Homo sapiens: one gene and its partners. The protein of the gene in region 3 interacts with the protein of the main gene of each other region in a pairwise test. Each region holds a gene or a part of one and is shown on either strand. Other genes may lie near its edges. The genes, in order: PRSS23, PCNT, ODF2L, PIPOX and CEP126.

Evidence for each region.
Region 1: the proteins of ODF2L (region 3) and PRSS23 interact in a two-hybrid assay, tested with the Homo sapiens proteins (one large-scale study listed by BioGRID and IntAct).
Region 2: the proteins of ODF2L (region 3) and PCNT interact in a two-hybrid assay, tested with the Homo sapiens proteins (one large-scale study listed by BioGRID and IntAct).
Region 4: the proteins of ODF2L (region 3) and PIPOX interact in a two-hybrid assay, tested with the Homo sapiens proteins (one large-scale study listed by IntAct).
Region 5: the proteins of ODF2L (region 3) and CEP126 interact in a two-hybrid assay, tested with the Homo sapiens proteins (one large-scale study listed by BioGRID and IntAct).

Annotation. Positions count from the first base shown.
Region 1 is NC_000011.10:86,797,890-86,804,526, reverse strand, and holds the start of PRSS23 (serine protease 23 precursor), read right to left. Parts: upstream 3,986-6,637; 5' UTR 3,876-3,985; intron 1-3,875.
Region 2 is NC_000021.9:46,441,167-46,447,206, reverse strand, and holds the end of PCNT (pericentrin), read right to left. Parts: intron 4,711-6,040; coding exon 4,634-4,710; intron 3,398-4,633; coding exon 3,259-3,397; intron 2,514-3,258; coding exon 2,386-2,513; intron 1,924-2,385; coding exon 1,880-1,923; 3' UTR 1,438-1,879; downstream 1-1,437. UniProt on the Homo sapiens protein: Integral component of the filamentous matrix of the centrosome involved in the initial establishment of organized microtubule arrays in both mitosis and meiosis. Plays a role, together with DISC1, in the microtubule network formation.
Region 3 is NC_000001.11:86,348,831-86,353,863, forward strand, and holds part of ODF2L (protein BCAP), read right to left. Parts: intron 4,155-5,033; coding exon 4,029-4,154; intron 3,379-4,028; coding exon of another isoform or gene 3,361-3,378; exon of another isoform or gene 1,271-3,360; intron 49-1,270; coding exon 1-48. UniProt on the Homo sapiens protein: Acts as a suppressor of ciliogenesis, specifically, the initiation of ciliogenesis.
Region 4 is NC_000017.11:29,044,635-29,050,674, reverse strand, and holds part of PIPOX (peroxisomal sarcosine oxidase), read right to left. Parts: intron 5,817-6,040; coding exon 5,668-5,816; intron 1-5,667. UniProt on the Homo sapiens protein: Metabolizes sarcosine and L-pipecolic acid.
Region 5 is NC_000011.10:101,993,863-101,999,678, reverse strand, and holds part of CEP126 (centrosomal protein of 126 kDa), read right to left. Parts: intron 2,081-5,816; coding exon 2,036-2,080; 3' UTR 1-2,035. UniProt on the Homo sapiens protein: Participates in cytokinesis. Necessary for microtubules and mitotic spindle organization. Involved in primary cilium formation.

The DNA of each region.
Region 1 (6,637 bases), on a different chromosome or scaffold from region 3:
TAATAAGTCCTAATTTCTATTAGTTTGCAACTCTGCTTCCAAGTTCTCCACATTACTAAACCCTATTTACTAACTTGTGTGATAAGACTTTGTTCTGACAGCATTATATATCTTGCTTAAAGCTTCCATGTAACGCTAAAAGTTATAAAATTGCATTTAAAAAAGTTTAATTCAGATTTAGAAATGAATGCAGACTTTTAGAAACTAATGCCCATCAAATTACTTCAAACTGATTAGGCTTAGATATTTTTAAAATATCTAATCAGAAATTAGAAGATACAGCTGTGGGTTCTCAAGCCCTTAAATGGGTTTAAACTGATGTCTGTATTAAAGCTACAAGCTTCTTAAGTTGCTTAGTCCTTTACCAAATGTTTATTTAGGGTGCTTTAGAAATTCTTCTGAATAGCATCCTCAACCAGATGATTGCTTTAGCTGGTCTTTTTAGCTCTGGTCTTTAGGTCCAGGATTCCCTAATATTATAATTTTCCAGAATCACGTAAGTCCAGGTCAGGGACGATGCTGACTATAGTGTCTGTACTATCATTTACTTCTCAGGACCATTGATTCATGGAATTATGGAGGGTGGAGGCAAAGGAGGGGGAAAGGAAAAGGAAAAGGAAAATGAATCATGCTAATTTCTCATCTATCTGGCAGACAAGATTTCCCTGATCAGTCTGCAACAGGACCACTGTTTGAGAGAATGATTTAACTCCTATAGCAAACAAGTGCTGGGAGGGAAAACCTAATCCTTAGGTCATATATTCTCTATTGTACAAATTGTGACTCCAGCAGAAGGCAGCTTTCAAGAACTGAGTGGAGGGATGGCTGTGTGTGTATGCTCTTAAGACAGGCCCCAAAGAAAAGCCTGAGGGGGAAACAACCCTCCTGTCCATTAAGGGTCTTTCCTGAGGCATTCGCAGCCTGCCCTGACTCATCCGCATTAATAAAACAACAAATGATGCAAAACTGTGATGCTTTAAAATTAGGTTGGTGGATTTACATTCATTTCTCAACTCACATGATAATGGAGTAATTCCTTAGAAGACAAATAATTATTGTTACCATCTGTATAAACCCTGGGTAAGCCTGTGCTATACCTGTTTAAGTTTACTTAAACATAAACACTCATCTAAGGTATAAACAGATGTAATGAAAACATTCATAATCCCACACCTGGAAAGGTAACTAATGAGTTACATGATTTTAAATTCTCTCTCACCCTTATAAATGAATCACCTTATCCTTGCAGAGCTGCCTGGAAGACTCACACCTTAAAAATGGAATGAAGATTTTCAAATCTCACCCTTTTACCTAAGTCTGGATGAAGAAAATTTAGGTCTATAACGTTTCATTTCTAGGAATAAACTTTTGCTGAATAAAGATTCCTGGTATACATAAATTATCTTTTAAGGTTTCCAACCAAGTGTTTCCGTGCATCATTTCACCTAACTGGCAGGGAAGAATGGAAAATGAAGGTAAGAAAATATTTTTTCACCATGCTTAGTAATACAGAAACTATTCCTTTTCCAGCTTTGGGTATCTGATTCATAAATAGGTTACACAGTCCACCCTCCATCACTCAATATGAGCCACTGTCTGAAAATATTTATACTTTTTGAGGATGCTGCCACTTCATAGGCCCTTGGTGGTGGGACTTTGCATAATTAACAGATATGCAAACAACAATCTCTTTGGAGACTGGATGCAGTGACTACTGTCTCCTGCACGGCACCTTAGTCTTGAAAACTGCAACAACACAGGTCTCCTCAAGAGGGCCACTGTTTGAGAGAATGATTTAACTCCTATAGCAAACAAGTGCTGGGAGGGAAAACCTAATCCTTAGGTCATGTATTCTCTATTGTACAAATTGTGAATTCCTGCAGCCGCTATAAACAGTAATGACAGAAAGAAACGGCAGGAAAGTTTGCAAAGATACAGGTTTTGGACACCATTTGGAGAGATGACAAAGGGTCTTCCATGGAATCAGTGGTCAGTGATATGGAACGGTGAAATCATGCTAAATCCTAAAGCAAATGCTTAAGAATGAACCAAGCTCTGTGAATACTCTGCAGTCGGGCTTGTTCTCGTTTTCCTGAATCACAGACCCTATTAAGGCAAAACAGACCTAATCACATAATCGTTTAAGAATTACAGTCTTGTACAGGAAACTACAAGGCACTTACAAGTCCAAGCAACCCTAAACACAATCTTGTGGTCAAATGAAGTTTAGCCTCTTCTCTATCGGATTTCAGGTAAACTAAATTGAGCCTGGGACAAACCTGGCAGAACAAGAACAGAGTGCAAAAAAACCTGCTAATATTGAGAACATGAGAAACAAATTCCCTGGAGTCTGTGGGAGTTAGGCATGAATAATGCCTGGTGGATGAAATCCTAAGGGATCTATGAGAAGAGTTACTGGGAGAACCTGAGACTATTAACCATTGCAGACTGGGGACAAAAATGTTCTCAGATGCATTAATGGACACTTATGCTACAACCAGAAAATGCATCCATGTTAACCATCCAGCTGAATAAGTCGTCAGTGTTACAAAAATGAGATCCATATTAGGCACCTTGGAAAAAGGCTTCCTTCCCAGTTCAGGCACAGGAAAGGACAAGTTACCGCTTGACTTTATTTAACTAGGAAAACTGCAAGTGAAACAACCTTTTCGTACGCAGATGGGGTGCAAACACTTTCACAAATAAACATAGTGGCTTCTGGGGGCATTTTCTAAGTTCCTTCTCCCCACTTCACCTCCAATCCACTCCTGACAGACTTCATGGTAGGCACGGTTATAAACCTGTCACAAATACTCGCATGCACAAGTAGGATCTTGAAACAACATGCAATAAATATCCTGATACTACTTTGACATAGGGCTTTTGACCACAGCTGACCTCATCTATAAATTCAATTCTTTCTCACATGACCATGTGATGAGGATTCTGGCACTGGCCTACCTGTTCCTAAGGAGTGCACAGGGAGCCCTCAAATTTAGTTTCAGGAGCTGAGAGAAGCAAGCCCTATTCCAATACCTACACTGAGCTGCTTAATTCTTACTGGTGTCACCCAGTGGGCAGTAAAACAAACAGGATTTTTATCAGCTGCTTTCTCCTGAGGTGCTGGAAAGCAAACCTAATTTGTATTCTGGAGAGGAGTGGTGGTGTTCCTTCATCTGAACAAGTCTTCTCCCGCTCCTTTTAAAACTTTAAAACTTTTATTTAAAAGTTAACTCGTGATGAATGCCTACAGGCAGAAGAACTATTTGCTTACAACAACTGTTGTTAGTTCAGACTGTAGTGTCTAGGGTTAGCACCCCCGGAACGCACACGGACAACCACTCCGGAGAAAAGATTCTATTTCCCAGCCTGTATTTGCTGCACTTTTGCACTTCTCTTGCTTGCTTAGGTGTGTTCACAATCACATGCCCAGGGTTAAAACTTAATATTCAGAACTTGATGGAATCCGGTATATGCAAAACTCAAGGAAAAGAAGTAGTGGTGGTGGTGTGTTGGGGGGGTGCATGGGGGTGTAGCCATCGCCCCCGCCGAAGGACAGCTTGCCGAGAGCCGGCTCTCTCTGCTTCCCAACCAACATCCTGCACCCAAGACAGCAGGATCTTCTTTCCCCATCCGTTTCATGGGTGACACTGCATGAATCCAAATGACCTGCAGCCCCCGCCGTCTCCCCAGAGCTCCTTCAGGCCCCCAGCCCGTGTCCTGGAACCCCGAGGACTGCCCTGGCGAAGTCCTGCGGTGCCTCCGGCAGCCCGCAGTTACCCTACCCCGCGCATACCCGGCCCTTTGTCCCGCTCCTCCCGGCGCCTCGCCTCTCCCGCGCCCGGGCGGATGCCCCAGTCGGTGCCCGCACTCACCCGCGCCGAGCAGCCCGCCCGGGCCGCGGCTCGCTGCGCCGCTCAGACAGGTGTGGGCGCCGGGAGAGAGCGCGCGGCTCCCATGCCTGCCCCGCCGCACAGCCGAGTGCGAGCAAGCTGGCGAGCAGCGCAGGCAGCTGGCGGGTCCGCCCCCCGCGCCACCCGAGGCCCGCCCGCCCCGCCTCCGGCCTCGGGGAAGCCGCGCGGACGCCGCCCGCCCCACTGCACATAAACCGTGCCCCCCTCCCCTCGCCGCTCGCCTGCGGCCGGAGCAGGGTGGAGCAGCCCAGAGGGCCTGAGGCCGAGCGTCCCTGCGCAGGTGGGCCCCGGTGGCGCGGCAGCAGTCGCCAGTCCGGGCCTCTCGGCGCCAGGCAGCACCGGCTCTGGCGGGCTCTCCTGCCCGGGACCCGCGCGCCGTCACCCTTTGAACACCGCGCATCCCCGGGTCTGGCGCGCGGCCTCCTGAGCGAGACTACGGCCTTCGCTGCTGGGAGCACGCTGCCAGCTCGCAAAAAGACCAGGTCCCCTACAAAAGGCGACCCCTCCCCCAACAGCCTAGAACTAGGGACGCGGGCCACACCTGGTGTATGGGGAGCCCTGGGCAAATTTGAAGAATTGGTTCAGAACCTGTGTGCGCCCCACCCCCACGTACACTTTTAGCGCCTTAAGGTGCTGACCGAACTCCTAGTTTCTCCGGTGCCTCCAAAGAACAGAAACCTGTATTCCCATGGCAGGGCCACCAATGCTTTGCATTTCCTTACAGCACTCAGTGCTGTGCGTGGGGCCCAAAGCACCGGGGGTGCTTGGCAGCTTCTGAGCGGCGGTGGCTGGGGAGCCCACTGGCCTCAGTTCTTCATCGGGGCACCAGCTGGTGGAGCCACCTCCTTGTCCAGTGGGCCTACTTCCCTGAATCACTCCAAGCGGTCGTTATCTTGGTGGTGGTGGTTGGGGGCCAGGGTAGGGGGGTGTGCGGGGAGTCCTCTCCTAACCAGGCTGGAGACCTTGCCATTTAAGGTCCTAGTGTTAGAGCCTTCCTATTTAGTATAGATTACTGTGTATTGAGCGTTTTCGGTCAAGAGCTTTACATATAGGCCATTGTGGTGAAGAAGGTGCAGAGATTACACTAATTTTTATAAGGAACAGGAGGTTTGGAGAGGTTTTATGACTTGCCCAAAATCACACAGCTACTGAATGGTAGGACAAGATTTTGCACTGAGCCATGCTTTCTATCAAGCTACTTAGCTTTCCTTTCTCCTATCAAAGTCTACTCTCAGAAAGGGAAGGTCTAAAGTGCTATTTCACACCAAGGTGTTACTGATATGCCTAATACGTTGGTGTTTGCAATTACTTTTACATGAGAAAGCCCTGAACACATTATTGTGTGGTCTTTTCTTTTATTTTATTTTCAAGACAAGTACTCCCTCTGTAGCTCATTCTGGAGTGCAGTAGCAGGATCATAGCTCACTGCAGCGTAGACCTCCTGGGCTCAAGTATCCTCCCTTCTCAGCAAGTATTACACGCGTGAGTCACTGCTCCCGGCCTGGTATTTCTTAAATAGAAAGGAAACTGATATTTTCCACCATTTTAAGGGCAAATTTTTCTTAGCTTAGCTTCAATTGTTTTCTTTTAAAATGTCACATTAATATATAGAGACATAGGCCAGGCTCAGTGGCTCACGCCTGTAATCGTAGCACTTTGGAAGACCAAAGTGGGCAGATTGCTTGAACTTAGGAGTTTGAGACCAGCCTGGGCAACATGGCAAAACCCCATCTCTATAAAAAATACAAAAAACCTAGCCAGTTGTGGTGGCACACGCCTGTGGTCTCAGCTATTTGGGAGGCTGAGGTGGGAGGATGGCTTGAGCCCAGGAGGTGGAGGTTGCAATGAGCTATGATCACCACTGCACTCCAACCTGGGTGACAGACCAAGACCCTGTCTCAAAACACACACAGACACAAAACCAGATATAAACTTATGTTACAGCTTTTGAACAACTCGCAAATAAAACCAAAACAGATTTATAAAAATTTTCTTCCAGAATAATAAAATTGAAATTAGTAACGTTTCCTGGACTACTATCAGCATTGCATGGTACTGACAGCTGAGGCGTCAGTACCTTTGACTTCCCTGTGGCTCTGCCACTCTCATGATGTGTGAGGTGCCCAATGCAGACTCAATTCTCTCACCTCTTTCCTTCGTTCCATCTACCATATCTCCTTTGCCCACACCATATGTCATTGCAATGGGTTTCTCTTGACTCTAATACATTATTTAGGTATTTGTGCTGTTTCTCTCTTATTAGCATAGCAAGTGAAGTGGTAACTCTTGCTGCCAAAGACTAGTACACACAGGTGCTGCAATCAAGAGGCAGTACTTGGCATGAGATGGTCATCCCAATGATCCAGAATGTGTTTATCTTTTATTATAAAAATTTTAAAGATTAAATTGAGGATCTCTAAGTGTCTGTAGCTCCCAATTGAAGAAACACCATTAAAAGGTAAGTATCTTAATAGAGGAACTGGAGGTGCAGCTGGAAGGAAGGGAAGAAGGGAGAGATTTATCAACCATGCTCAAGTTGTATTAGAGTCACTTCAATCCAACAAATATATATTGAGCACATATTACATGGAAAACATTGCGCTAGGCACAAAATTAAAGAGATGCATATAGGAGGACCATACAGCAACATAATTAAGAGTGGCCTGTGGCATCTGACTATGGGGTACCAATCCAAGGTCTGACGCTTACTAGTTGTGTGGCTT
Region 2 (6,040 bases), on a different chromosome or scaffold from region 3:
TTTCGGCTCAGTGCAGCCTCCGCCTCCTGGGTTCAAGTGATCCTCCTGCCTCAGCCTCCCGAGTAGCTGGGATTACAGGGGCCTGCCACCACACCCGGCTAATTTTTGTATTTTTAGTAGAGACCGGGTTTTGCCATGTTGGTTAGGCTGGTCTCAAACTCCTGACCTTGTGATCTGGCCACCTCGACCTCCCAAAGTGCTGGGATTACAGGTGTGAGCCACCACACCCGGCTGACAGCTTCTTGGCTTCAAGCTAGAACAGGCTCCTCACATTCATGTCCCATTGTCTTTGATGAAACGAGGGCAGTTAACTGTAGAATAGCCCATGTTCATCTTTTTCCTCATGGTTTCATTTATTTTTCCTTCAATAAACTATAAGTTAGGGCTGGACACAGTGTCTTGAGCCTGTATTCCCAGCACTTTGGGAGGCCAAGGCAGGAGGATCACTTGAAGCTAGGGGTTCAAGACCAGTGTGGGCAACAGAGTGAAACTCCATCTCTACTTAAAAAAAAAAAAAAACAAAAAACAACTAGCTCAATGTGGCAGTGCGTGCCTGTACTCCCAGCTACTCGGGAGGCAGAGACAGTAGGATTGCTTGAGCCAGGAGCTTGAAACCAGGCCGGGAAACAAAGTGAAACCTTGTCTCTAAAAGAAATACGAAAATTAGTGCCAGGCGTGGTGGTGCGCACCTGTAGTCCCAACTACTCGGGAGGCTAAGCAGGCGGATCATTTGGGCTTGGTAGGTCAAGGCTGCAGTGAGTTGTGATTGTGCCACTGTACTCCAGCCTGGGTGACAGAGCGAGACCTTGTCTCTAAAAATAAAAAAATTATACCCATCTAGTACATTTTTGGATAAAGGGTCCTTGGCTAGGTATTACTGTCTAGTCTAAGCGAGTATGAGTGAAACATAAAAAAGCACAGCCAGCCGGGCGTGGTGGCTCACACCTGTAATCCCAACACTTTGGGAGGCCGAGGAGGATGGATCATTTGAGGTCAGGAATTCAAACCAGCCTGGCCAACATGGTGAAACTCTGTCTCTACTAAAAATACAAAAATTAGCTGGGCCTGGTGGTGGGCGCCTGTAATCCCAGCTACTCAGGAGGCTGAGGCAGGAGAGTTGCTTGAGCCCAGGAGGCGGCGGTTGCAGTGAGCCGAGATTGCACCATTGCACTCCAGCCTGGGTGACAGAGGGAGACTCCCATCTCAAAAACAAAAAGCATGGCCATGAGAGGTGGATACATAGTGGCAGCATCTTTAAAAAAATAAGAAACCAAGTAAGAGTAAACAACAGTCAAGTGGCTATTCAAGAATGCTCCGGGTTCCACTGAAAATTTTTGACTTACGAGTTTAACATAAACTCTCTGCTCAATTTTTTAGTCAGTGAGAAAGGCAAACTGATAAAATGGATAAAATGGAAAAAAAAAACAACACAAGGGCTATTCACAAACAAAACAGTGATTAAATTTTATTCCTTTTTGAGTTGTTTTGTTTTTATTTTTAAATGAAGTTTCCATCTGTACACGTTAAGAAAATAAACAAAACAACAGGAAGCCATTCTCTGTGTATCCTCCTTGGAGGCAGGAAGGATGGATCTGCCGATAGGCACACAACAGCACACAGCCAGGGCTCATGGGAGTGAGTGCCCGTCACCTCACGAAGGTCATGGGCCTAAAACATACGGAGGCTCCATAGAAAATGCTCCAGCTGGCTTTGCAGTCATGCATAAAGGTGAGGACACTTAATTCAAGGCATCTGGGGGCTGGTGTCACCGCACATGAAGAGTAGTGCCCATGCTGTCCCACGAGCTTCCTTGGGAAAAGGGAAAAACAAATCTTTTCCTCAAATAGAATTGTCGCAGGAAAGAGCCATGACATTTTATTCACTGTTTAATCATCGGGTGGCAGGATTTCTTTGAAGTAGAATCTGCATATAAATAAAAATGAGGCAGCAAATTGGTTACAAGGCTTCACAGATTTTTTGAAAAGAATTCCACAATTTTGAAACACTATCACTGAATTCATGTAAATTTTGGTAAAAATATGAATTATACAGTGGTTTAAATTATGATATTTAAGAAACACTGAACAAATTATATCCTGGTCGAAATATAATCTTTATGTTCGCTATCAATGTAAGAGAAAGGACAAAAAAGTCCAGACGGTGATTAAGTCAAACTGACCTCAGCACGTATCACTGAGTACACTGGCTTAGACTTCTGTGAGATTCTTCACTTGTAGCCTCTATTCTAATACTATTAGTGACACTGATTGTTCAGACTGAAACTTTGGTTACTAAGCTGAATACCAGCCATCTTTCAACAGACCCTACGTTTCCAGGGTACAGTGATAATCAGCTTAATAAATACTCGGCGAGGACTTGCATTACCTGGTAGTACCCCTCCCAATCTTTGCTGGATCACTTCTAAATGGTGAATATACTCTGTCAAGGAATGTTCTGGATCTTGAGAAGCAGTCAGGGATCTTTCTAATCTTGAATTTGGGGATGGAGTGGCTCTTCAAACAAATTACCACACCAAGAGAAGAAAAAAAAAAAAAAAAAGAGTTGAGTTTGACAGACGGAGCCATGGTGACTGAGTGCAGAAGAAAGGCACCAGCCCCGCCAACCAGACCCGTGGGGATGGGTGACTCTGGGGCCGTTTCCTTCAGATCCCTCATTACAAAAAGTGTCACAGAGTGCTTTAAAAGCTTCTGTGCAATGTTCCAGAGTTGAGTATATTACTTTGCTTGCTACATCTTCGACGATGTATCTATTACCCAACCTGGATTCTGCACCAGGTCTCACCTGCCTTTCCTGATCTTCCCAAACTGTTTGTCAGGGTGATACCTGCCCCACTCAGTCCTCACCTCAGCTGTCCTTCCTCCTAGCCTTCCGCCAGGCCCAGGGAGCACCAGGGGTATCCCTTTTCCCTCTCCACCCAGAGCTTCCAAGTATCTTCACGGCAGGGAACATGCCTTCTTCACCAAGGCACATCCCTCACAAAAGGAGCCCTCGGCCACCATTTACTCTTTCACTAAAGATGGCAGCACCGGGCTCTCGGGCACCAGAGACACCAGAAAAGCCAGGTCCTCCCCCAGAACAGGGCGGGACTTCTTGGCCCTCACGGACTCACGCTGGAGAGTTTCCTGCCTTGCCCTGGGCTGGGCCAAAGCCAGAACTAAAAATGCATTTCTCTGAGGCCCTATGTAGGCTGGAGGGAGAGCCCTGGCAGGAGACGGGGCCTGAAGGCATCACACTGACCTTCCCCCACTGTGTGGGGAGGCTGCTGCTGCCAGTCTGCGGCCTCTGGCAGGGTCCCTGGTGTGGCCAGAGGGTACATCCCGGGTTGGGGGGGACTCTCTGGTTCTGGGTGGAGACTGCGGCTGTCGTGCTCGGGGCCCTTCCCCAGAATTATTTAACAACCAAGGGATTAGGAAAATAAATGAATGCATTTTAGTAAAGGCCCATCTATCAACAGTTTAAACGTATAAGCTTTTAAGAGCCTGTATGGCAATTTTAAGACATTTTTAAAGTGCTCAAGGTACAATATCTTTTTAAAAGCTTTGGAAGAAACCTGAGCTTTGACTATCTGCATCTGCAGGGGTAGCCCGTCTCCGGGGGAGTGCGGGGCAGGGGGGTCTCAAGACCTGGGTGGGGGTCCTGCCTCTATCCGCTCTGAGGAGCTGGCTCAGGAGGGAGGGGCAGGAACCCTGGAGACCACCAGGTGTGACTCAGAGGGGCAAACTTTCCTGATGGCTTGAAGGCTGAATCAAAGCATTTTAATTTCAAGAAGCAACTATTAAAATGTGGAGTCAACACTGATACAGCTGCCAGGCGCAGTGCTCATGCCCACAGTCCCAGGTACTGGGGAGGCTGACACAGGAGGATGGCTTGAGCCCACGAGTTCAAGGCTGCAGTGAGCTGTGACTGTGCCATTGCACTCGAGCCTGGATGATAGAGCAAGCCCGTCTCTTAAAAAACAACAAAACAACAACAACAACTTGGTAAGGCACTTCCAGGAATGCCGAGTCATGGTGCCAGTCGGCGGTGGTTCAGGCAGCCTAAGCCCCACAGGCCCGGAGCCACACACCCACCCCGCGTTCTCTGTGCTGCGTGGGAGGGGCGTTCTCTGCACACAACGCCTGCCGCTCTGGGACAAGAGCCCCTGGAAATGCCCTGCTCTGGGGCTGGCTCCTTCAGCACTAGTGCAGCCAGCTGTGCTCTCTGCTGTAGGGGGCAATGGCTCGGCAGAGAACTCCCGAGACAAAGATGTGAGTGAGCCAGAAATAAGCATGATGCTCTACAAGGAAAGAGACGTGAAGTGAGTTTCAGTTGATTTAAGGAATAAAAAAAGACCATTTTGCTAAACACTATTAAATAATCAATATATTGAGCATCTCAGTGTTTCCCATCGCCGTACGCCCCTGTGACCTGTGTTCATAGCTAACATGAGCTCTGACCTCCCTACGCCGGGCGCGCCTTCCCTCTGGACGACTGCTCTGACGGAATTCACGGATTTTCTTACCGTGCTTTATTACGTCCCCATCAACACTGAAAAATGACCCAAAGTGAATGAAAAACAAGAGTAGAAAGAAAGGTTTGTGAGTCCAGCGGTCAACAGCAGCTGGAGTCCCACCTGGGCGAGGGGCTTTGCCTTGTGCCAGAGCTCCTTTCCGATCTACTTCTTGCCATTTCTTAACCAAAAAACGTAATCTACAAAAAAAAGAGACAAGACACACTTAAAAGTACGGCAAGACAGGAAGGGAAAGAGCAATGAAAACCCCACTGTGACCAAACAAGCAGAATGGGGGCCTCGCTGCCCATGGGGACCAGGACGCCAAGGTCGGCCAGTCTGTTGACTCGGGCCTGGCATGCCGGGTGCACACATCCAAAGTGCTCGCAGGGCTGCCGGCGGCGGCGACCTTCCCATGCCCAACCACCTGACAAAGCCTCACTGCGGCCCCACCGTGGACCATATGGTCCCCTAGACACCCACCATGGCCCAGCTCAGGACGACTCCAGTTCAAAGTCAGCCGGCCACACCAGTGACTAGGAAACACATGCCGCTCCCGCCTGGTGTGCAGGACCCTCCCATCTTCATCCTGTCACAGATGCCACTGGACAGGCTCAGAACACGGAGACCCCAGCCCTCGCAGGAGTCCGTCAGATGGTGAGCATGCAGAGTGCAGGTGACGAGGGCATGCAGGTCAGTGTGCAGGGCCCCAGACGCCCTGCTAGGATGGCCTTCGGAACAAGCATCATGCCTGTGGCTTCCCTCCTTTGAGGCATAGCAGACACTGCCGATTCCTCCATAAGACCTGTCAAGGCCCCTTGGTGGCAGCTACCCTAGGCAGTGCCCTCACAGGGACACAGAGACTGCTCCTTTCTGGGACACCACTGCCTTCAAAAGATCTCCCCTCCTCGACAGGAGGTAGGATCTGGGTCTGCTTACCTCCCCTATCTAGTGCCTAAAATGCTTCCTCCTGCAGGGTGTTCTCCCCATGAACACAGGATGGACAGATGGGTGGGTGGAAGGATGGACGGTGGAGGCCTACGGTCAGGGGAGCTCAGAGACGAGGAGACAAAGTGCCCCAGGACCAGAGAAGCTGAGAGTACAGCAACCCAGGAGGCCTCGCCTGCACCCCACTTTGGCCCAGCCTGCAGCCGCGATGACTGAACTGGCTCGGCACCTGGTCTCTGAAAGGAGCGGGATTCCTAGCTGCTCTCTGCTGCATCTGCTACTCCAGACAGGCCCGCGCGTGGCCTTGGGAAACACCTCTGTGGCATCAGGGAGCAGGCACAGCCGCACAGTGTTTAGGGGGAAAAACAGTTTTAGAAATTCAGCACGTTCTTTGTGGCACGAAACCCATTAAAAGTCAAGATGTTCCTCTGTAATACAAAGGTGCCCTTAAATCTTTAGTTTTAGAAGGTGAGAGATTCATACACATGACTTCTTGAAGACAAGTTCATCATCTGTATTTTCTCTAAGGCCTCAAATGCCATTCATCTTTAAAAAGAACATATTATGGAGTTTCAAGGAATA
Region 3 (5,033 bases):
AAGACTATTTTGTACTTCTTTCAAACACACTTCCTGATGTTGTGCTTTCTAAAGAAAAAAGGAAAAAAATACAGATAAGCAATAATAGCATTCATTCCAAAGGACCAGAGTCATAATATTAAAAACATATATACAATAACTAGATAATTCTTTTTGATTTTTTAAAATAATACTCACATCTGATGTGTTCATTCTTAGAGCTCACTCTTTAAAATTAATAATTAAAGCACACACATGGTTGATCTTCACTGATATAATTTATAATATACATTCATTTAGCCCCAAATTATTACATATTTAACATGATTAACTTAATAGGTTAACAACTGTCATAATTTCACATGTAACATGATATATTTTCATACTAGTTTTTGCCATTTTCTGTCTAAAAATTCACATTTTATTCCAAAATAATTAAATGTCTTAAAAGTTGATAGAATTCTAGTTTTGATAATGTGAACATTTTCTTAGAATCTCTTAAAAAATAAAAAGAATTCTTCATATTACACTGGTTGAGGAAAAAATTTAAAACCACAATACATTTTTTTTAACTAAGGTGCATATGAATTCCTAAGTAGGTGAGTTCACTGACAATGCTTTAGATAAAGACAGGTTGCAAATATCATCTAGCCTCCAATTAAAATATAGACACCTAGATAGAAAAGAGAGAACTTTTACATCCTTCATATCAGGTGTTCAATGACACCTGATACCTTCTGAAACTGAGCAATGCCCAGCTCAGGAAATGAGGCAGGTAAAAAACAATGAGCTAGGCTGGGCAGTACAAAGTCACAGGATGAATACAATGAGTTTTACTCAACAATTTGGAAAGAAAAATAGTAACACATACTTATTTTGTAGGGTAGAATATAAAATGTCAATGGATTTTAGGATAATACATAAGACTTCAAAGACATTTCAGGCTTCCCGAGGGGTGCCTTGGATTAAGCTGCTGAGGTCATCCACAGATCTGTACATCCATTCTGCACCACCCTATTAGGGTACTTGGACAGAAAATACAAAAAGGCCTGCAGGTAAGCAGGGCACTGTGGGAGACACCAGGGATACAGACGACTATGAGACATGCTTTCAGAGTGCTTACAATTCAAATGGGGCTGAAGCAGGTATATTAAATAAATACTGCCCACTTAACTGTCCCCTGGAAGGCATAAAACACACAAACTCATTTTTCAGCAATGTTTAAATCTATGCTTAGAATTCTAGAATTTTACTAGTACAAAACTTATCAGGTTTAACAAAACATCAGATCTTTATTTTTTTTAATTTTTATTATACTTTAAGTTCTGGGATACATGTACAGAACGTACAGGTTGGTTACATAGGTATACACGTGCCATGGTGGTTTGCTGCACTCATCAACCCGTCATCTACATTAGGAATTTCTAATGTTATCCCTCCCCTAGCCCCCCACGCCCTGACAGGCCCTGGTGTGTGATGTTCCCTGCCCTGTATCCATGTATTCTCATTGTTCAACTCCCACTTATGAGTGAGAACATGCGGTGTTTGGTTTTCTGTTCTTGTGTTAGTTTGCTGAGAATGATGGTTTCCAGCTTCATCCATGTCCCTGCAAAGGACATGAACTCATCCTTTTTTATGGCTGCATAGTATTCCATGGTGTATGTGCCACATTTTCTTTATTCAGTCTATCATTGATGGGCATTTGGGTTGGCTCCAAGTCTTTGCTATTGTGAATAGTGCCACAATAAATATACGTGTGCATGTGTCTCTATAGCAGCATGATTTATAGTCCTTTGGGTATATACCCAGTAATGGGATTGCTGGGTCAAATGGTATTTCTGGTTCTAGATCCTTGAGGAATCGCCACACTGTCTTCCGCAGTGGTTGAACTAATTTACACTCCCACCAACAGTGTAAAAGCATCCTATTTCTCCACATCCTCTCCAGCATCTGTTGTTTCCTGTCTTTTTAATGATCACCATTCTAATTGGTGTGACATGGTATCTCACTGTAGTTTTGATTTGCATTTCTCTGAATGACCAGTGATGAGCTTTTTTTCATATGTTTTTTGGCTGACTAAATGTCTTCTCTTGAGAAGTGTCTGTTCATATTCTTTGCACACTTTTTGATGGGGTTTTTTTTCTTGTAAATTTGTTTAAGTTCTTTGTAGATTCTGGATATTGGCCCTTTGTCAGATGGATAGATTGCAAAAATTTTCTCCCATTCTGTCGGTTCCTGTTCACTCTGATGATAGTTTCTTTTGCTGTGCAGAAGCTCTTTAGTTTAATTAGATCCCATTTGTCAATCTTGGCTTTTATTGCCATTACTTTTGGTGTTTTAGTCATGAAGTATTCGTCCATGCCTATGTCCTGAATGGTATTGCCTAGGTTTTCCTCTAGGGTTTTTATGGTTTTAGGTCTTACACTTAAGTCTTTAATCCATCTTGAGTTAATTTTTGTATAAGGTGTAAGGAAGGGATCCAGTTTCAGTTTTCTGCATATGGCTAGCCAGTTTTCCCAACACCATTTATTAAATAGGGAATCCTTTCCCCATTTCTTGTTTTTCTCAGGTATGTCAAACAGCAGATGGTTGTAGATGTGTGGAGTTATTTCTGAGGCCTCTGTTCTGTTCCATTGGTCTATATATCTGTTTTGGCACCAGTACCATGCTATTTTGGTTACTGTAGCCTTGTAGTATAGTTTGAAGTCAGGTAGCGTGATGCCTACAGCTTTGTTCTTTTTGCTTAGGATTGTCTTGGTTATGTGAGCTCTTTTTTGGTTCCATATGAAATTTGAAGTAGTTTTTTCTAATTCTGTGAAGAAAGTCAATGGTAGCTTGATGGGGATAGCACTGAATCTATAAATTACTTTGGGGAGTATAGCCATTTTCATGATCTTGTTTCATCTTATTCATAAGCATGGAATGTTTTCCATTTGTTTGTGTCCTCTCTTATTTCCTTAAGCAGTGGTTTGTAGTTCTCCTTGAAGAGGTCCTTCACATTCCTTGTAATTTGGATTCCTAGGTATTTTATTCTCTTTGTGGCAATTGTGAATGGGATCTATTTATTTTACTAGCTTTAGCCAAGTACTAGGGACATTACAGCAAAACCCACCTCATTTATTTTTTCAGAGGCTTCAATTACACAAAAAAACAGCACACACATTTTACAATATCAGAAAGTCAAATGGTGAGTTAAAAAAAAGTTTAGAAATAAATGGAAGGCCTGTGCTAAATTAAAGGTGATCGACGTTTTGTTCTGACTAAGTTGTCATGAAACTTTTGATGGCAATAAAATCAAATTGTGCATGCCAAAAATCATTTAACTCTTGAATCTTTTAGGTTTTCAACTTTTTAGACACTTGGGAATTAAAAAAATAGATTTCATGGAGTCTCTGGATCCTGGAAAAAACACAGTATCATTATTCTCTATGTCATTATCTAGTAGACAGTTATTACGTAATTTAATCATGAGTAATGCTAGCTTTCAGAATATTCTATGCCAATTGACTGTTTCATGAGTATTCAGGAAAAAAAACAGAAGACTAATTAAGCACAGTCACTTTGGTATTTTCATTTCATGGCTGAGTGGACTAAAGCATCCATCTCACATGTATATCTAACAATACTGAATGTTTACTACAAAATTATAACTTTCTAAAACAAAATATTCATTATTCAAGACAGATATAAAACTCACTTGTAATAATAGTTTACACTGTGTTTATCTTTAAAAAATGAAAAATTCATATCAGGATGAAATCAAGTAGATTATATCTGTAATTTTCATTAAGCAGATGTCATTGCAAAAGTAATATGTAGGGAAAGTGCCTGATGAGATTTGATGGCAATGCAATACATGCCATCCAAAGAGGCAGAATAATAAATTATTTGGCATATCATAACATTTTTATTTGTTATGTCTTATATTGCTTGTTATTTTTAATATTATCAGTAAAACAATAGACTTGATTCACTCACTTTGTATTTTCTACATGGTAAGAATGTTAAATGTTATCTTTTATAATATGTTAAGCCATGCTAATACTTACACTGTTCATTTTGCAAACAAGTTGATTTTGTTCTTCATTTTTCTTTCTAAGCTCAGTTTCCAGATCTAATATTTTAATTTGTAAAGCACTCTCTCTAGATGACATTTTCTCTATTTCTTCAGCAACCTGTAATTTTTATCAAAAGAGTAAAATAAAGTGCTTTCTTTAAAATATGATTTAAAGCCTTGACAGTTATATTGTACCTTTTTTCTAAACAGATATTACTTGTATGTTATATCCAAGTTTAAAGATGTTCTATCTTGAAGAAGCATATATAGCGTAAGTATATACTATACTTATCTTCGCAGCACTAAATATCTGCAAAATTGGCTTGAGATGGAAGAGATGTATACATTTTCACTGCTCCGTGACTTAGGTAGGTGTTTTCTCCAACAGTATATTTTAAAAACAGACTGAGACCAATTACCATTTTTATAGCATTTATATTCACCAGGGTGTTAAGAGCAGTGATGGAACATAGAAATTTCTTGTTAAATACTCATTATACACTTGGATTAATAGAATTGGGAGCAGGAATTGGTATACACACTTCCTACAAACACACACACACAAACACAGAGACTGGTTCTTCATTCATTCACTTCCAAACTGGTCTGAATTTGAATTTTCATATTTCTCTGGTTACTTATTTTAGCAGGAAGTCTAGCTTAGTTATGTTCATCTAAGGAATCAGATATGTTTCCTTCTAAGGAAGCCTATTTGTAAGAATGCTGGGTTGGAGCCACAAGAATGAGAGTAGAGGCAGGGACTGATCCAGGAACAAGGAGCTAGTGGAAAGGACTGTCCTCCAACCTAATTCCTATGAACTCGGTTCTAAGTTATTATAAAGATTTCTTCTGTACATATTCCAAGCACAATTATGCATGAGAGATGCCAGTGTGAGCTGAAGCTATGGGAGAAAGGGCCTTTAGGACAAACATTGACGCCCTTGGCGCCGTCCCCTCAGTGTGGGCAATGGTAACAGGGCAGTGATGGCACTCTCAC
Region 4 (6,040 bases), on a different chromosome or scaffold from region 3:
TAGAAATAGGGGTCTCGCTGTGTTGCAGAGGCCTATCTCAAACTCCTGGCCTCAAGCAATCCTCCTGCCTTGGCCTCCCAAATATTTGGGACTACAGACTACAGGCGTGAGCCACCACACTTGGCGAATTTTTTGTGTTTTGTAGACACAAGAGTCACACAGTATGTTGCCCAGGCCTATCTCAAACTCCCGGCCTCAAGCGATCCTTCTGTCTTGATCTCCCAAAGTGCTAGGATTATAAGATGAGCCACTGTGCCCGGCCCTAGTAAACTTCTTACTCAACAAATAAGTATGAAGTCACTCAGGTGTATTTCCTTGAGTCCTTTTTACCCAATGGGGTCCTGGCTGGGAGGGATTCTGGGACAGACCTGGCTTAAACCACACCTAAGCAGATGTAATGTGAAATCCCTGACCTGGAAATTCCAGAGCAGCATATTCTAATCTCTGCCTGCAATATACCAGCTTTGGCCTCTCATATACTCTGAGATTTCCTTTCCCTTTTTCCATTGTTTCTTCCTCCTTTCTTTCCTCCTTCTTTCCTTCTTTCCTTGAAATGACTCCTCTTACAGGGATGTACTATGTGGGAAAAATGAACTCATGCCAAGACAACGGGCATATCTGTTGAATTATGAAATGCTGAGTGATGTTCTAATTCCCAAGCCATCCTGTGGTGGATGAAGCGGGAGCTCCCCATCCCTGGGAGTAATCAGCGAGCTGATTCTGCCGGTGAATGTAATTGTGCCGATTGTAATCATTTTGCTCCAGCTCTCTGCCCCTGTGGCATTTCTTTCTTAGCCCAGATATTGATATAACAGTGGGAAATTTTCCATCTGAATGTGTGATGCCAGACCCTCCCCTAGTCCGAAGATGTGTTTGGGAAATTCTCATTTTCCGTGGATCACAGCTGAGCTATTTGGCCTGAGGGAAACCGTGCGCTGCTGGAGAAATGCCTTGGATTGGAGAGAGATTTTTGACCATTATGAGCAAATCGGAAATAAATGTAAAACACTGCCTGGAAATGCAAAGGCCTGTGATTATGGGAGATAGGTGAGAGGCTCCTATGGGAAATGCTTAGAGAATTGGAAACCAGTCAGTCAAAACCGGGATTGGAGAATGGGCCTTTTCCTCCCAGTATGAAGATGGATGGCTTCCATGGGCAGATTGAAAATCATTTAAGTGCTTATTTTCTTAATGGCTTTTTCTAGATACCAACAAATAGACTGCTCATTCTGCATCAATTTCTCACCCCTGTGTTCGTGGCCTCCCTGTCTTCTTTTTTTCTGCTTAGACCTGGGCTGTAAGTTTGGGAAGGAGAAGGGTGAGAGGAGACAAGGGCATCAGCAGGATAAAAAATGACCGGGAAATGAATGGTCAGGACTAGCTACAAAGAAGGACTGAAAGCCAGCACATGGGTTGCCAGGGAACCCTAGAAAAGAGTGCAGCTCCCACCTCCCAGAATGCCCATCAGCTGAGTCAAGAGCATTTAGTATGAACTATTCCTTCCTCCTGACCCTAGCTTGATCCAGCACTAGGAAGAGGTAATTGAAGATTCCTCCCGAGGGCCTTGTTGACTCTGCTATAGCCCGACTAATGCCTCAGATATGATGTAGGGAGTTGGTGATCAGGGATTTCCACCAGTTACTGTAGCAGGACAGGGTGTAGGATGGAGTGGGGAGGAATTGGGAGAGGAGACGGCTCTCCCTGCACCTGCCATCTCCCATCCCAAGCTTCAGCTCTCCCCTCTGTGGGTTAAAAATGCCCAGCAAGCCAGCTCTGAGTCACCTTGGGGAAGGGATTCGAATGGGGACTTGGTAATGGCTGCTGCCTTTGTTGGTTTTGGAGGAGCTCTAGGCATTTCATCTTCCGTTCAGTGGGCCGAGGTGGAATTGGTTAACAAAGACTGCTCCAGGGAGGGGATGTGGCTGACAAGCCAGACACTTCGCAGACACAAGAAACAGCAGCTGCAGAGGGGGCCACCAGGTTCTGCCAGCAGCTGTACTGCCTACGGCTGTGATCTTGTCTGATACTGTCAGCTAAGCAGGGGCAGCCCAGGTCAGGAGCTAGACAGTAGGACTCAAAGGGAGAAGGCGGGGCAGGAAAGAGATGGGCCAGGGAGCTGGGTTTTGCTGTTGGAATCAGCATCCTGGCTGTACACATCACAAAAGATTCAGACCTTGTGATCTGACACATGTGTCATTGTCTGTTCCCAGAATATATGCAAATGTCCCAAACCCACCCATGTTTAGTATGCCGCTGTCACAGGAAGCAGCTAAACAGAATGAAAAGCACTGGACAACCACCTGAACTGCCAACTCCTAAAGGTTTTTTTTTAATCATCATCAAATAGCATTAAGTATGCTCATATCTATCAGTAGTATTATGGTATTGTGCTGGTTCTTCTAGAAAAACCTGGGGAAAAGTAAGAACCACACAGATGATGAATCATTTAGAAAATAAGAATCAGTAAAAGCTAAAGGAATTAGAATGGCTTTTAGCCCAAAGGTAGTAGAGCTGTATTCAGATACCATTCTGAGAATGGGAAGTATCTGCTCTGTGTCCCTGCTAAGTAAAAGAACCAAATAAATTGGTGTGCCTGAGTACATTAGGTTAGCCATAAGAAAGGACTTATAATAATAGAATAATAACAATAGTAGTAAGAATACTTAGCACTCTAGAGGTTTTTAAAGCATATTCACATTACTTTTCATTTTTCGTAACTGGGGCTATGAGACATCAGAATGGTCTTTTAAGAAGGGCTGTGATATTTCCCTGTCTTTAAATGCATAGTAGCAGTCTTTTGACCTGGGATGATTTAGGCATGAACTTATTTGGAGACAGAAATGGACAAGTTAACCAGTTTGAGGTATCTTCCACACCCAGGGCCAGCAAGCTACCACTCAGGGACCAAATCTGGCCTTCTGCTTGTTTTGGTCTGGTCCATGAGCCAAGATGGTTTTTAAATTTTTTAATTGTTGATTTTTTTTAATCCAAAGAAGAATAATGTTGAGTGACACATGAAAATTATATGAAGTTCAAATTTCAGTGTCTATAAATAAAGTTGTATTAGAATACATCCAGGCTCATTTATTTACATCTTGCTTTCACACTACAATGGCAGAGTTGAATAATTGTAACAGAGACCACGTTGCCTGCAAAGGCTAAGATACTTACTACGTGGCCATTTATAGATAAAGCTGGCCAACCTCTATTCTAGACTTAAGAGTATAGTAATTCTGTGATTTGCATTAATGGGATAAGACCCTGACTACCCGGCAGCAACCCTCTCATAAGATTGTGAGGAGAATGGAATGAGTTATAGGTGTCAGGTACTTAGGCAACTCTTAGTTTTTTCTTTTCTTTTCTTTTCTTTTTTTTTCTTTGAGACGGAGTCTCACTCTGTCACCCAGGCTGGAGTGCAGTGCAGTGGCGTGATCTCGGCTCACTGCAACCTCTGCCTCCCAGGTTCAAGCGATTCTTCTGCCTCATCAGCCTCCCTAATAGCTGTGATTACAGGTGTCCACCACCATGCCTGGCTACTTTTTGTATTTTTAGTAGAGGCGGGGTTTCACCATGTTGGCCAGGCTGGTTTTTAACTCCTGACTTCAGGTGATCCACCTGCCTCAGCCTCCCAAAGTGCTGGGATTACAGGCGTGAGCCACCATGCCCAGCCTAGTTTCTTATTGTAAACACTACATATATGGTGAGGAGGAGGAGGAAGATGGTTTTCCAGGTGCTGTTCTAAGCCCATTACCTACTTATCCTCACCCCAGCACCATGACACAGGTATTAGTATCCCTACTTCACAGATGAAAAAAGCTGAGTCTCACCAGAGGTTCAACAGCTCGTTCCAAACCACACAGCTGAGCGTGTCAGAGCTGAGATTTAGAGCCAGGTCCAGTTCCAAAGCCCGTCCAAATTCCTGTCCTCCTGGCAAAGAGGAGGATTGTGCGCTTCTGAGAGTCTCCTACCCAAGGATCCCTCTCCCTCTTTCCTGCTGCCACTCCCCTTGGTATCTGTGGTTGTTGCACCCATCTGTCTCCTCCTGCCTTTCCTCCCACTGTTGCTCAATGGAACAGAATGCAGCTGACCCAGAATGGGTCAATAAGGGACTGCCCCTTATTGAAAGGTGCTAGACATTGGGCCAAGTATTTCACAAAAGTCTCATTTAATCCTCTCAGAGCCCTATCGTAAAAAGTGAGGCACAGAGAAGTCAAGAAACTTTTCCAAGATCACACAACTGGTGTGGAATAGAGCACAATGTCAAACCTAAGCCTGTCTCACTCCAGAATCGTCTCCCTCGGAAAGATTCCAGACACTCTAACGTCTCTTAGTTGCCTCATTGTGTGCTAGGAGGAAGTGTGCCCTCTGAGGCCCAGGGCGATTCTTTTAGCAAAAGATGCTCAGCAGTATTCACAGACAACTGACAGAGAGGGGTCCCTCTGCCGGGCCACCCACCAGCAAGACATGCTCCTTTATTTGGGTGCTGGGTGCATTAGCTGCCTCTGAATAAATCTGTAATTAGCTGCCCTGGCTGATTTGCATAATGGATTTCACTTTGTTCTTAAGTTAATGGTATTTTTGCAACAGAACACTAACCTCTTGGTTCCTGGCCATTAAAATAACCACCACCCTATCAGGTAGAGCCAGGGTTTGTAGGAAGTTCAGTTAAGAGTCACAGAGGAGGTGGGAGGGAGGTGGGATGGTTAAAGTTCCCATTGCATCACAGATTATTGGCTTTCTTTCCCATGAGTGTTTGAAAGGTCAAGGGTTGGAGAGAGCCATGAAGGCAGCAGAGAAAGACGTGGAGGCTCACTCCCTGGCAAGCAATCCAGCCTGGGGAACGTCCCCATTTTGTTCCTACAGGAAAAGGTACTCAGAGAGAACAAAATGGGTTTATAGGGCTGCTAAAGGGGGTGAGGACCCCTCAGGAAAAGTTAGGATGTTGATTTGACTATAAAGAATCCTGGGCCAGGCACGGTGGCTCACACCTGTAATCCCAGTACTTAGGGGGGCCGAGAAGGGCAGATCATGAGGTCGAGAGATCAAGACCATCCTGGCCAACATGGTGAAACCCTGTCTCTACTAAAAATACAAAAATTAGCTGGGTGTGGTGGTGCGCACCTGTAGTCCCAGCTGCCCGGGAGGCTGAAGCAGAAGAATCACTTGAACCCGGGAGGTGGAGGTTGCAGTGAGCCAAGATGGCGCCACTACACTCCAGCCTGACAAAAAAGCGAGACTCTGTCAAAAAAAAAAAAAAAAAAAAAAAAAAAAGAATCCTCCTGAAAGCAGCCTCCTCCTCTATCTCAACCCCTGCCCTAAAAGAGTTGCAGAGGCCTCCACAGAGTTGAAAATACACACTCCAGCAGACTCCTGTCCACTCTGGGCATCTGCCACACGGTGCCTTGCCAGCAGGCTTTCCAGTACTGCTTCTGCTAGCCTTGGACACATGGTCTGAACCCAGTCCTGCAACGCAGAGCCTGGCCAGAGTCAGCTGGACCTGTGGGGTGACCACCATGACAGCAGAACTCTTCCATGCATCTGGTACTTCTTGAGGCCTTGTGTCCCTCCCATTGCATTCCAAATGTTCCATGGCGCTGCCACTTCACACACTAAAAGTACCTGCAGGTGCAGAGCCCCACGATTCAAGGAATTCCTCCCACAGCCCACCTGTGCAATTGGGTTCCAGCCTCGTGCTCCAGCTGGGCCCATATCTGATAGCACTCATGCATCATCCGGGTGTAAAAGTCTTCCAGGTACGCCTTTCGGATTATCCGGCTTTGTCCATGGGAGCTTCCTCGGGAGTGTGGTAGAAAGAACTGGAAGTGGAAAACAAGAGAGATGATGGAAGCCATTACCCCTCACACTGCATCCCCTGTTAAGAGCCATATCAGCATGTGCTGTCAACCAGGAGCCATTTATCCTTCAAATATTTCCACACAATCTGGGGAAGGATTATGCACAGGAAGATAATTTGAGCCCAGGAATTCAAGACCAGCTTAGGCAATATAGCAAGACCCAGTCTTCTCAAAAATTTAAAAAC
Region 5 (5,816 bases), on a different chromosome or scaffold from region 3:
TTATCACTCTTAATGAACCCACCCTGTATCTACTAAAATTCTGGAGGAGTCATGGGCAGAATTACAGAAGAATTCTGGTCATATGACAGTTTCATAAAAGGACAATATCATAATGTGCAAGTTCTAGTAAAATGCAAATCTTATCTTGTTTCACCAGCTTACTATTTAGGCTTTTTTTTTTTTTTTTTTTGGCCTATTCTGACTTTGGATCTTAACTATTTTCAACTATCTTTTTGCTTGTAGAGGCATTCTTTGGTTCCTAAGAGGTATTAAAGTGAGGGATTACTAACGGTGAAGCTACTTTGGCATGCAGGATGCTGCTGTGTACATATATACTAGTGTATATGAATATAAACCCTTGTCTTTTTTTTTTTTAATAAAAGTGAGTTTTCATCTGAGGTGCTTGGAATGATTCACAAACAACTTGGCACACTCTTCTGGCCTGTTTACCCCCATTGAAATGTTATTTTATAAATTACATCTTAATTCACAGAATTTTTTCTTGATAGTATAAGAAATTCTCAAATATTTTCTATAGGGGCACACAACTTTCTATTTAAATGTCTAAGAACTAAATTTTCTGTCGCCTTCCGAAATCCTATTCTTAAAATTAAAAATATAGGAAAGCACAAATGTTTCCTTCATTAGGTCAATTTTTTCACTAATTTCTTCATTTAAAAAGTGAATTCTTTTCCTGTTTTTCCTCATTTCATCCAATAGTTTCCATTTCTACTAACATGGTGTGGCAGAAAGAACATGGGTTTTGGAACTAGATAAACCTGAGTTTGAATTTTGATTCTGTCACTGTAGGTAGCTATGTGGCCTTGGCTCAGTTTCTCATCTCTAAAGTGGAGACAAAAATACCCATGGTTTGGGTGGCTGGTCAGATTAAATAAAAAATATATGCACAAAATTTGGTACATGGTAGGCATTCAACATGTTAATGCATTTCTCACTACATCAAGTGTTTCAAAACTAATTCTATGGAGGAACCAAAATTTAGTAGTGTTATTAATAAAAGGCCACATGTTTTCTTAAAACTCTTAATTTCTAATTTTGATTCATCACTTTTTTTTTTTTTTTTTTGAGGCTGGGTCTCACACTGTCACCCAGGCTGGTGTGCAGTGGCGAAACACAGCTCACTGCAGCCTCAACCTCCCAGGTTGAAGTAATCCTCCTGGGCTCAAGTAATCCTCCCGCCTCAGCACCCCAAGTAGCTGGGACTACAGGTGCATGCCACCATGCCTGGTTAATTTTTGTATTTTTTGTAGAGACAGGGTTGCCCAGGCTGGTCACGAACTCCTGAGCTCAAGCCATCTGTCTACCTCGGCCTGCAAAGTGCTGGGATTACAGGCATAAGCCAACGGCCCTGGCTTGATTCATGGCATTTTAATGAAAAATTTCATGTTTTTTCGGTATGCCAAAGTGCCATGTATGAAATATGAAATTTGGAAGAATCGATGTAATTGTACAGCCATAGGAAGGCCTCCCTTCACCATACAAAAAGGTAACCTTTGCTCTATTGCTGCCACCAAGGGCCATTTTGTGGGATGTGGTAACTTTAAGAATATTTATTACAATTAAAAAAATCAAAATATGCCATACTTCATAAACATCTTATCAGTAAGTTAGAGGTTTAATAAAGAGGTTCAATAAACAGAAATTTTATTTAACATATATTTCAACATGAAATCTATAAATTGCAAAGGAGCACTGTGAATTCTTTGGAAAAACGTTTGTTTGCTCTACTCACAAGCTTCATCCTTGTGGCATGTATTCAGAGCTAGGTTATGTCCTGCTTTTTGTTTAGGCAGGCATAATGTCTTTCATGGTATTCTCAGAACTCTGTTAAACTTCACTGCTTTGTTAAATGTCACTGCTCTGTTAAACTTCACTGCTCACAAAATCTGAGTTAGGACAAATGTTCATGGGGGTTGTTGCTCACATGTTTTCCTATGGCTGGTTTTCACAAAACGGTATGCATCTAGTCCTAGGGAAGTACATGAAAGGTCTTCTTAGACGGATTCTGCTGGAATTATCTCTTGTCTCTGCAGCTGCTGGTTCTATCTTCTCTCTTCTCCTGGAAATCAGAAAGAAGAAACAAGCATGCAAACACATGCCAAAACACTGCAGCTACAAACTAGGCTGACATGTCAAATAGTGGCATATTCAACACATCCTGACATCATTCTCCCAGGTAATGAGTTTAAGATTGCAGAGGACTTTATAGATTATTTACCTCAACCCTTACATTATGTTCATCAGTACCTTTCTACTCTAAAAGGTAAAATTCCCACTTTGAAAATGTGCAGTTTTACAATATCATTAAAAATTCAGGTTTCAGGCTGGGCACAGTGGCTAACGCCTGTAATCCCAGCACTTTGGGAGGCCGAGGCAGGCGGATCACGAAGTCGGGAGTTCGAGACCTGCCTGGCCAACATGGTAAAACCCTGTCTCTACTGAAAATACAAAAATTAGCTGTGTGTGCTGGCACGTGCCTGTAATCCCAGCTGCTCGGGAGGCTGAGGCAGGAGAATCCCTTGAACCTGGGAGGCGGAGGTTGCAGTAAGCTGAGATTGCTCCACTGTACTCCAGCCTGGGTGACAGAGCAAGACTCCGTCTCAAAAATAAATAAATAAATAAAAATTCAGGGTTCAAAGTGAAATGATAAATTCTAATTTATTTGAACCTGCATTTAAAGCTCTTTATTTAAAATTTTCTTCTAGATAAATTCTGGGTACCAATAAAACTCTATAGTGTTGTATAGCAGAAATGGGAGTTCTTGGGGGTGAGCTTGTGAAAACAATGTCCGACGGAACTAATGATGAAAGGGCCTGGAACCCACATAGTTAGGCACGCCAGAAGGAAACCTATGGGAACATTAGCCCCTGCTTCCCTCTCCAGTTTTTTCTCTCCCTCTTCATCCTGAATCTGTTTCATTTAGTCCTTGGAAGTTCCTTTCTCCTTTTCAGTCTCTGAAATAATATTCATTTGGCTAACTCTGAAGCTTTTTTCAGAACTCAGAATGTTGTTCATTTCCCATATGTTCATATGCCTGTGAAGTTAGTGCTTTTTACACTGATTTATAAGAGACCGCTTATTTTTATGTTTCCTCTATCAGACCGTATCCATCAGGAAAACAAAGCCATTATAAGAATTATGGGACTAAGGTACTTATCACAGGAATTACATTTTACCAAATATAGGAGCTGGGAAAATGAGGGTCTGGAAAAGGAAAATTGAAGGATCAGAGTATATGGGGCAAGGGATAAAAATGTAGCCTGCTCTACTGTGGCGTGCCAGTCAGGATCAGAGAAAGGATGACTGAGCAGGCTGTTTGAAGCACTGGTGTGGGTAAACAAATTGAAGCTTGCAGGGAAATCTGATAATCCAAGCATGCCCAAGCTGCTGAAGTGGAACTATGAAGGGGGAGCTTGCTGGGGAAATCTATGGAAACTGCCGAATGTGGAACGACTCTGCTTTTCTGAAGCTACTGTCTTCAGGTCTGCAGCCCAGTGCCTGGTGGTCGGCCTAGGGCTGCTGTTGGTCAGCAGGGCCTGTAGTCATGAAGATGCTATAGAGTGGAGAGGAGTGAGCTGCTGGGCACCTTTGTATTTGTCCATCACTGACTAACCATGATGATCTTCTAACAATAATGGCTTCTGACCACTTCTGCCTTCTTCTTTTGTGGCCAAAATTTCTAACTGAGAAATGTGAATCCTAGCCTTAGCAAAGTTGGCTATTTTGTGCTCATGATGTATTTTTAGAATGTAGCAAAGTTTCTGGCACATAGACGGTACTTAATATTTAATAAACGGAAGAAGAAATGGAAGACCACTTATACAATGCAAATGAGAAGCAAAGCAAAATTTGTCAGAGACATGAAAGTATTTCATAAATCTCTTTCTTGACTATAATAGTTAATTCAACATTTATGTAGTACTGCTGTTTTATTGATAGATTGGTGACTAAGAGAAGTCCAGCAAAAGAAGAATTTGTCAGTGTATGTCCAGTACTGTCAATGGGAGAGGGTACTTGGACTGACTACTTCACTGGCTTTCCTCATCAGTGCAGGCTACACTTTGATCCCCTTCCCCACGAACTCCCAGATGGACAAAGGACAGGGGACCAGGAAGGGTAGGTGACTTTCTTGTTTGTCATCACTGTTTCTAGACCAGTGTTTCTCATCCTTCGCTTCCCATTTGAATTCTTCAGAGAGCTTAAAAATATCTAAATGCCCAAGCTGCCCTCAGGTATGACCCAGGCATCAGTATTTTTTAAAGCTCTCCATGTGATTCCAATGTGTATCCATGTTCATGTTTCTATGTGAAGTTAGTGCTTCACATAGAACTAACTTGTGTTTCAAAGTTAGTTAGCAGCATTGGTATTACCTAGTCTCATCCCAGACCTACTACATTAGAAAATGTATTTACCAAGATCTGTAGGTGGTACAAAGTACACTAAAGTTTGAAAAGTGCTGTTCCAGATCATTTTTACCAGAACCCAGTGCCAAGGCAAAAAATAAAAAAAAAGATTCAGTAATGTCTAGTTTTAACACTGCATGTTCTCACTCGTAAGTGGGAGTTGAACAATGAGAACACATGGACACAGGGAGGGGAACATCACACGCCAGGGCCTGTCGGGGGTGGAGGGCTAGGGGAGAGATAGCATTAGGGGAAATACCTAATGTAGATGATGGGTTGATGGGTGCAGCAAACCACCACGGGACATGTATACCTATGTAACAAACCTGCATGTTCTGCACATGTATCCCAGAACTTAAAGTATAATTAAAAAAAAAAAAAACTCTCAAGACACAGAAAAGATATGGATACTTACCGATGTACACTTCTTAGCAGTTTTTCAATTAGGATACACATCTAAAGTTATTTGAAGATTGGTACACTAATACCTGTTTCTGCTCCCATGACTGATGAAAATACTCTGAATATAAAAATGTTTATATTCTGTAGATAGCCCAGAAATAATGTTGTACTCCTATAACCATCTGATCTTCAACAAGGTTGACAGAAACAAGCAATGGGGAACGGATTCCCCATTCAATTAATTGTGCTGGGATAACTGGATAGCCATGTGCAGAAGATTGAAGCTGGACCCCTTCCTTATACCATACACAAAAACATCAACTCAAGATGGATTAAAGACTTAAATGAAACCTAAAACTATAAAAACCCTGGAGGATAACCTAGGAAACACCATCCTGGACATAGGCCTTGGTAAAGATTTCATGATGAAGACATCAAAAGCAATTGCAACAAAAGCAAACATTGACAAATGGAACCTAGCTAAACTAAAGAGCTTCTGCACAGCAAAGTAAACTATCAACAGAGTAGACAGACAACCTACAGAATGGGAGACAATATTTGCAAACTATGCATCTGACAAAGTTCTAACATCCAGAATCTTTTTAAAAAATCTTTTTGAGATAGAGTTTCACTCTTGTTGCCCAGGCTGGAGTGCAATGGTGCAATCTTGGCTCACTGCAACCTTTGCCTCTCAGTTTCAAGCGATTCTCCTGCCTCAGCCTCCTGAGTAGTTGGGACTACAGGTGCACACCACCACGCCTGGCTAGTTTTTTGTATTTTTAGTAGAGACAGGGTTTCACCATGTTGGCCAGGCTGGTCTCGAACTACTGACCTCAGGTGACCAGCCAGCCTCGGCCTCCCAAAGTCCTGGGATTACAGGCATGAGCCACCATGCCTGGCCTAATATCAAGAATCTATAAGGAACCTAAAATGAATTAACAAGCAAGAAACAACCCCATTAAAAAGTGGGCAAAGAACATGAACAGACAT